Linked DNA regions of Homo sapiens: region 1 is linked to region 2. The links come from fine-mapping of genetic effects on gene expression. A gene starts in region 2. The other region holds a variant in brackets. All regions are shown on one strand. Distances are from middle to middle. Region 1 overlaps CMSS1 (cms1 ribosomal small subunit homolog). Region 2 holds the start of CMSS1 (cms1 ribosomal small subunit homolog).

Region 1 (4,399 bases), 140 kb after region 2:
CATCACCTAGGTATTAAGCCCTGCATGCATTATTATTATTATTATTATTATTATTATTATTATTATTATTATTATTTGAAGGTAACATGGAGGTTTAGTTTGAATTTAAGAGAACAGTAACAGAAAGGGAAAATAACCAGCCACCCAGGGTCTATTTTTAACTGCCACGGCTTGAGCAGAGCCATGAAGAGAGAGAACTAGGGCCTGTTAATGCCAGCCATGAAAAAGCTGCTACAGTGGGCAGTGTGTGACTGAGCCCAGCAGGAAAGTGCTTACATAGCACTCAGGCCCACCTTTCAAGGACCATGCAAAGAAAGGAGACATTTGAGAGCCAACAAGAATTATAACATGTATGTGCCACAGAAGGGTAGGAGGAATTCCACGGGGAAATGGTCACATGGGTCTACGGTTAGTAGAATTAGACAACATTTCAGAATACACTTCCAGTGAAGCTTGGTTTGAATCTTGGTACTCTTGCAGGAGAAGAAGAGAGCTGGGGGCAGAGCAGGCAGTGTGAGGCATAGAGGCATGAGCCAGCAGGGCTCCTTCAGGGAACAGCAGTGTGGATCATGGGGCTAGAGCTTGAGGTTTTGGAGAGGCTGGTGATGTAGTGGAACAGGCAGAGAAGGGACCAGAGGAGATGTCAAAATGAACTGGAGATAGCTGTACTAGTTTGGCATCTTAAAGAATTTTGGCTTTACACTTAGGCAGTGGGAAGCTATTAGTTGTCTCTAAGCAAGTTTTCTTGTCTCTAAAATGGAAATAATGAGCTCTATACCACTGGATTCTTGTGTGTAAAAACAGCAAATTATCATGCCTTGGTAACTATTTGTTCCTTCATTTTTTTAATCCGATAAATTATTGAAATAGGTTATAAATGTAACAGAATTTGAAAACACATCAGGATATGATGGTAATTTAAAAAAAATTCATTGTGTAAATGTTCAAGTAGTTTCCATTTTTCCCAAACTTTATTTTTATTTTATTTTTTGAGGCAGAGTCTCACTCTCTTGCCCAGGTTAGAGTATAGTGGCACAACTTCAGCTCACTGCAACCTCCAACTCCCAGGTTACAAGTGATTCTCATGCCTCAGCCTCCTGAGTAGTTGGGATTACAGATGTGCAGCACTGTGCCCAGCTAATTTTTGTATTTTTAGCAGAGGCGGGGTTTCGCCATGCTGGCCAGGCTGGTCTCGAACTCCTGTCCTCTTGTGATCTGCCTGACTCAGACTCCCAAAGTGCTGGGATTACAGGCGTGAGCCACCGGGCCTGGCCATTTTCCTCAAACTTTAAATATTTTATTTTCTATATAAATATTAAAAAGAAGAGGAATTAAGTCATTTAATTTGTGTGTAGCTCTAATTCATTACATGGGTTGTATCAATTTTCTGAGCCTTAGTTTTCCACGTGTATAATTTCTTTAGCAGTCTGATAAATTGAATTTAGTAATCTGTAGACCAAAATGCTATAGCCTTTTAGAGATGGAACAAAATTAGTTGTAATAAAGATGCTTATTTTCTAACAGACTCCAATAAATAGAGCAATAATGAGTCTCCACTGGATTATCACATTAGCTCCCAGAGGACATGGGATAATTGTATAGAAAACAATTAAAGGAAGGGATTGTACTAATGTAATTTTTTTAGAATTACCCAACAGTAAGATTATGAGCATGGTTCTTGACTGAGCCCCCCAGCCCACTCAGTGTAGTAGGACTAAAACTCAGACCACTCCCATTGTACAAAGGAGATGCATTCAATGCATTCAGATGGCTAACATCTGTCACTTGCAGAAAAAAAGATGGGAGTTAGGCCTAGCTGTTCCTTTCACCTTTCCTCCTTTCCTGCCTCCCTCCTTCATTTATAAATTGTCTAAAGTGTGTATAGCATTATGCCTCTCAATGTTATAACGATTGGCTCCATCCCGACCTGGGTTAAGTTTAACATTGAAAAATTAGTGGTAGCTCACAACCTGCCAAGTACCGGAGAGAAGTAGTTCTTTTCTCTCCAAGATGTTTGACATCTTGGAAACGGCAGTTTCTGTGTGTTTTTCTAGTTAGAGTAGCCACCTTTACACACCTAGTTTTTGTTATTCCTCTCAACAACACTATGAGGTAGGTTTTAGGATCCCCATTTTACAGATGAGGAAAACGAGGGCTCCAAAAAGTTAAGTGGCAGAACCTGGATGTCAGATCAAACACTGTAACTCCCAGCCCAGCCCTCTTTACCACAGCTGCTCCTCAATTAGGCAGCCCAAGTGTTTGTCCCTACCCACAGGGGAAAAATCAAAGATTTTGAACACTAGTAGAAGCAACATTCTGATTAGGAATATAAAAGATTACAGCGTGAAGTGAAATAATCTCCCTCCTCACCTCCTGTAGGTCTTGCCCAAATCATTCTTTAGCATCTTCTTCTATCCCTCCCTCCTACAGTCTTTTTACCT[G/A]CTTCCTAATCATTAGATTGACATCTCAAGGTAGGGGAGAAGTAGGGGAGTCCAGAGTCCTGGTACTGGGATTGAGGGGAGGAACACTTTCACTTTCAGGGCTATTGTTCTTGCTTTCCTTTGTATGAAGTAGTATTTTCTGTTATTGATTTTATGTTTACTTACTGTCTGAATTGAATACTGTTAATTTATGTGCCCTTGGCTCTAAAGCTCTGGTTATATATTTTTGCGTTGTTAATATTTTTAATTGGTGTTTCTAAAGTAAATGTACTCTGTGTGTTTGGCAGACCAACAAAGTGAAATGTAAAAAGAGTCTATTTTTAAAAGTAACCATATAAGGTGAAAAGTCCCTTTTTGTGTGGGTGTGTGCATGCGTGTGTGCAGATCGCAGGTTTTATCAGGAACATATTCGTTAATATTTATTGTCACAGTTTACAGTGTGCCCCTTGAGTCCCTCTGGATTATGCACAGCCCAAATGACGTAACCTTGGAAAATGCAATAAATCTAAAGTTGGAAACCACTTCTAATAGGAAGTTTCTTGAAAGTTGTAAAGTTAAATTGCCTCTTCCAGGATGAGGGAGGTGGTGCGGAGAATGCCCGAGGGGATCCGGACTTGCCTCTTGCAGGTGTTATCCCCTGTGTTGGAATGCTGGGTTTGTGGGTTGGATTATTTTGTTTTGTTTTGTTTGAAATCCTCTGAGTATTTTTTTAACCCCAATACTCCATGGGGTGGCAAGCTTATATATATACCTTAAAATGTAACCTTTGATCATCCCTTTATGTATCTACAATGACTCTTATGCTATATATGCATACCCAGGAGCCCAGAAGTATAATTTAATTCATCAGAATCTTAACTTTGCAAGGAGACAGGCATTATGTAGTTCATTTTGCCAGCCCATGTGTGAACCCATCCAGTGACGTGCAGCTGAATACTGGTCAAAGTATCCCATGTTTTACATTTTAGGACATTCTTTGCCATATTATTTTGGGGAGCTGGAAAGGCTCCTGGGAACCGATACCTTTGGCCCTGGTGCCTCTTTTTGAAGCTACTTAGAATATTCTTTTATAAGTGATTTAGTCTAAAAAAAATTTTTTAAGAATATTCTTCTCCTTCCAAGACATTTGTAGATATTTAAAGATAATGACACCGATCTTGCCTTTCCCCCTTTCTAGATGTCAAACATCTTTAGGTCTGCCAACCTATTTTCTTATGTCATAGTTCGTTTGTACATTTGTAGAGCACAAACCGGGTATGCATTAGACACAGCTAGAAACTAGGGAAGCACTGAGGGACCAAGTAGTCTGTGATTCCTGCCCTTCAGGAACTTCTGATCTATTAATAGCAGAGTGGCAAGGGCTATTATAGGGGCCCCAAATTTAGCCTTGCTGATTGGGGGTTAGGGATGTCGGGGAAATTTTTCTGCAGGACACACCACACAAGCAAAGTCCTGAAGAGTACTATGAGTTACCCAAGGAAGCGAGATGAATGAGGAGAGGAAGGTATTCCAGGAAGGACTGGCTTGCTGGAAAGGCTGAAGGTGAGGGGATGCGTGGTGAGTTCAGGGAAGTGAGGGTGGTTCATTGTGGTTGAGGCACTAAGTGGGAGGTGAGGAGTGGGGAAAACAGATGCAGAAATGCTAGGGCAGAAACCAGGGCTAACAGTGGGAAGATGAGGTCGCATGTGATGGGAGAGTGGAAGATGATGGGCAGTCCTCATCAGGAAGGATATTTATTGTTCTCTTGGGAACATAATTACTATGGGCAACATAAAAGGTTCTGCATGAGGTCATTTAGGTTTTGGAATATTTTGTATATTATCTTTTGTTGTTAGAGAAAGGATATATTCAGTCATTAGGGTTAGACAGATATAGCTCTTTCAGTAGCATGACCATTTCTCCAGCAACAATATGTTTGGAGAAAGAAGAGGAAGAGATAATATTGTTTTAACATTCTT
Region 2 (4,399 bases):
TGCTACAACTTAGGTTGGCTATTCAATATAATCTGGGGTCAGTAAACTTTTTTCTGTAAAGTTAGAGCAAATATATGAGGGAATAGTAATAAATAGTAAATATATGAGGGCTACAGTCTCTGCTGCATATTTTTCTTTACGTTTTTGTTGTTGTCGTTGTTGTTTTGTTCTGTTTCTTACAATGCTTTAAAAATGTAAAAAATGGCTGGACACAGTGGCTTAGGCCTCTAATACCAACACTTTGGCAGGCTGGAGTGGGAGGACTGCTTGAAGCCAGGTGTTAAAGACCAGCCTGGGCAGCAAAATGAGACGCCATATCTACAAAAAACAAAAACAACAACAAAATAACCAAGAATGGTGGCATGTGCCTGTAGTCCCAGCTACTCGGGAGGCTGAGGCGAGGTGGAATATAATGTAAGACCATTCATAGTTCATGGTACAAAACAGGTATCAATTCCCATTAATGCATAGACACTCCATAATTTAGTATTGCCAGACTTCTTTTTTTTTTTTTTTTTTTTTTTTTTGAGACCGAGTTTCGCTTTTGTCAACCAGGCTGGAGTGTAATGGCACCATCTCGGCTCACCGCAACCTCCACTTCCCGGGTTTAAGCAATTCGCCTACCTCAGACTCTCAAGTAGCTGGAATTACAGGCGCCTGCCACCATGCCCGGCTAATTTTTGTATTTTTAGTAGAGATGGGTTTCGCCATTTTGGCCAGGCTGGTCTGGAATTCTTGACCTCAGGTGATTCACCCACCTCGGCCTCCCAAAGCGTTGGGATTACAGGCTTGAGCCACCGCGCCCGGCCCATACTTCTTAATTTTGTGATTTATTGCCTGAAAAACGGTCTCGCTGTGGTGTTTTTTTTGTATTTCCCAGATTAATAATCAGACTGAATTCTTTTCATGTTTATTAGCCATAGCAACTCCTCTTCCACACTGGCATTTCTTATCTTTTTCAAAAATCTATTAATCACGAAAATCTCGTCATCTACATTTCTTCACAAAAGCCATATTACTTTTGATCTTTATAGATTATTTTACATTTGCCATATTTATACATAATATCTTCCCTTTTGGGGCATTTAGAGTGTGCGGACAAAGTCTAGGCAGTAATGCATTTATAAAACATCTATGAGTTGGGTGCACACGGGGTAATTTTCCACATATGGCTAATCCTAGCCTCATCAGATTAAGTTTCCCTGTCTTGTCATTTCCGAGGATGTATCCTATTAGAAGTCTAGCCCTTTATTCCTACAAATTGAATTTCCACTACTGTAGGCTAACATCTGAATGGACTCATCTTACTATTCCATGCATAGTACCAGGCACGTTGCGTGCTTTTACTACATTTTGTATAATTTTTACGTCTGTGTTTGATGTCCTGAAAAATACCGTCCACAATTACTTCACAGCTAGCCCCAGCACTTGGCGCCCAGCGGGTTTTCCTAGTCCCTCCCTGCCAAATCACGTTGGGACTGAGACAAGAGGCACTGCGGGTCTCTTACCTATAGTTACGAAGCAATGGACTCCCTTATTACTTCGTTTCCCAAATAGGGGGTGGGACACACAACCGAGGGAGTATGAGGAAAACAACTTGCGGGTCTTCGAGCCACTTGCGTCTTTCTGTGGGCGAGCCTTTCCAGGCCAATTACATTTTCTTTACTCATATTGCATAAATAGCAGAACTACATTTACCACAAAGGCCCGACATTCATGGTCATGGATCCTTGCGCATGTTTTCTAAGAGCAAACTGTACAAACACATAAACTCTGAAACACTGACGCACAAGCGAAAACACACGCACATGTTTGGGTCTTCTCCCGCTGCGCAAGTTCTTTGAAACTGAGCGGAGAAAAATCGTCTTCACATGGTGTCTCACACTTTCGACACAATCTTATCGGGAAACGTAACACGTAAACAAAATTTTTTAAAATGCATTATCAAAAACGATGACAATCCCTTTCGTCTTATGTTCCTTTTTGTCTTTAAGCTTTGGGGGGATTTATGTTGCGTTTCCAAACTGCTTCTGCCTGTCGGCGCCTGTGTGGAAACTGCGACGAGTCTGGGAGCGGCTGCCGGAGAGGCGGGGCAGAGGTGTGACGTCATCGCCGCGGGGCGGAGGCGACAGTGTCTAGCGGGAGCTCCGCGTGTAGCTACGCCGGCCGCCTGGCTTTGAGACAACGTGATTCTCCGCAGCTGGTCGCCTACCCGTGATGTTCTGCCCACGTCGAGACCTGAGCTGAAATGGCAGACGATCTCGGAGACGAGTGGTGGGAGAACCAGCCGACTGGAGCAGGCAGCAGCCCAGGTACCCACTCTGTGCCCGCGCTCCTACGGGGCCTCTCCCGGAGCCCTTCCGTGCGCCTCAGCCCTGGTCGCTTCTGGCGATCGCGGTGTTTGCCCAGCAGGGGTGTGCACCGCCTTGGGAGCGCGCAAGCATCTCGGGGAAAATGGTGCAAGAGATTCTTTAACACGTGAAACAGACAGCTGTGACATTAACTCAGATCTGTCTGCCAGCCAGGAAGGATCCTTTCCACAAGCTTTCTCTTTTCCTTATTTCTTGAGAATGGATAAGACAGTTTTTGTGAAGAGAGGCAACTTTGTATGATGGTTAAGGGTGACCCATGAACTGCTTTCAATTCAGACTGAGGTCAGAAGCAGGGGTTGCTGCTTCAGACTCCCTCCATTCAAATCACGACTCCAGTATTCTGATACTGTTTAGCCTCCTTTTCCTCATCTGTAAAATAATGATAACAATAATGTCCATTTCGTAAAGTTGTGAAGATTAAGTGAAGTTAGTACAGTAATGCACTTTAGCATAGTGCTTGACATATAATGTGTGGTAAATATAAGTTACTGTATTTCTTGTGGTCATCATCATTATCATGGAATTTGGAATAGTAGAACTGGAAGGAGGCTTAAATAGAGATCATCCTTTGAACTCACTTATTTTACAGATGAGAAACATAACCTAAAGATGTCAAGTAACTTGACAAGTTCACAAAGCTAGCTCCTTTCAGAAACAATACTAGAATTCAGTTAACACAATTTGAATAGTTTCTACTATGCTCTGCTGTGTTTACCAACTCCTGATGCAGTGGGCATTTCATCCCCAAGTAGAGTAGCGTTAAGTGACCCCCCATGTCAGGCTAGCCTTGAACTTTTTAAGTTCCATCACACCTACCATGCAATTATTGGTTGGTTGGTTTTTATCACTCCTCAAGGTCTGCCTCTTTTCTCTACAAGAGAAGACAGGGCCAAAGTCAGATTCATACTTCTGTCATCCACAGGGCCCTGCACATGTTAGACACTTGATACCTATTTGCTGCAAACAATCTTGAAATACTAGTTGTGAAATATCCATTAAAAATAACCAACTTCATTTGTTGCATTGTTTCCGGAAGGTCAAGCCTTCAGGTACAAACTAAGCAGATGTCATTTTTAGAAAGGTAGCCAATACAACATTTCCTTGATTAAACTTCCTGACTCTTTTGCAGCCCTGTGGTGTTCCACATTTACTTTAATAACTACCCCTCCCAACTCAGGTGTTAAAAAGCTCTATTTTATGATATGATTGAAGATGAACAGAGGCCATTTAAGAAATAGTTGAATTCTGTTTGAGTGGTGAAGGGGATCCCAATTCTTGGTTCTAGTCCTCACTAGCTGTGTGACTTTCAAGTTATTCATCCGTTGGAAGAAAGGCAGTCAACATGTATTGAGTATCTATTATGTGACAAATGTCTTCATAAATATGAATTGATTTAACTTTCATAACATCCCGAAAAGGTAAGTATTCTCTTCATTTGTATAGGTGAAGAAACAGAAAAAAGTTAAGTCGTGTTCTTAGGAACACACATTGAAGAAGAGGTCTGGGAAGAGTTTAGTCAAGTGTGATTGATTTTGAAAGTCACGCTTTTCCCGCTACTACTTTGTGACTTCTCTGGGCCTTTGTATCATAATCTGTAAAGAGCCCTTAAAGATCATCTTTTTTAGGGTTTTACCAACCAACAGTTTTTTTTTTCTTTTTTTTTTTTTTTGACACGGAGTCTCCCTCTGTCGCCCAGGCTGGAGTGCAGTGGCACGATCTCGGCTCACTGCAACCTCTGCCTCCTGGGTTCAAGCGATTCTCCTGCCTCAGCCTCCCAAGTAACTGGGATTACAGGTGCCCGCCACCACACCCAGCTAATTTTTGTATTTTTAGTAGAGACGGGGTTTCACCATGTTGGCCAGGCTGGTCTTGATCTCTTGACCTCGTGATCTGCCCACCTCGGCCTCCCAAAGTGCTGGGATTACAGGCGTGAGCCACCGTGCCTGGCCCCCAACAGTTTTAAACACTGAATCTAGTAAAACTTTAAATCGCTACAGCCTCCTTCATCTAAGTTGCCAGAATTCTCA

Evidence for each region. PIP is the estimated chance that this variant, and not a neighbour inherited with it, causes the effect. A credible set is the group of variants that fine-mapping cannot tell apart.
Region 1: its variant is the best candidate, but not a certain one, in a credible set for the expression of CMSS1 in T cells (TOPMed, PIP 0.51).

Annotation. Positions count from the first base shown.
Region 1 is chr3:99,958,176-99,962,574 of GRCh38, forward strand. All of the region lies in intron 1 of CMSS1 (cms1 ribosomal small subunit homolog), which reads left to right. All of the region lies in intron 1 of FILIP1L (filamin A interacting protein 1 like), which reads right to left. All of the region lies in intron 1 of LOC105374010 (a long non-coding RNA gene), which reads left to right. Among named protein-coding and RNA genes, the nearest start is that of MIR3921, 4.0 kb to the right of the region's middle. The variant G/A (reference allele first, on the strand shown) is at 2,442.
Region 2 is chr3:99,815,732-99,820,130 of GRCh38, forward strand. CMSS1 (cms1 ribosomal small subunit homolog) reads left to right here and starts at 2,131. Exons shown (of 10, transcript NM_032359.4): 1 at 2,131-2,312. The coding sequence starts at 2,249. It overlaps HP09053 (a long non-coding RNA gene), which reads right to left. Exons shown (of 3, transcript NR_110821.1): 2 at 3,189-3,243; 3 at 901-2,741. LOC105374010 (a long non-coding RNA gene) reads left to right here and starts at 2,131. Exons shown (of 5, transcript NR_189163.1): 1 at 2,131-2,312. RefSeq lists a silencer at 1,812-2,566 and enhancers at 1,982-2,856, 2,088-2,397.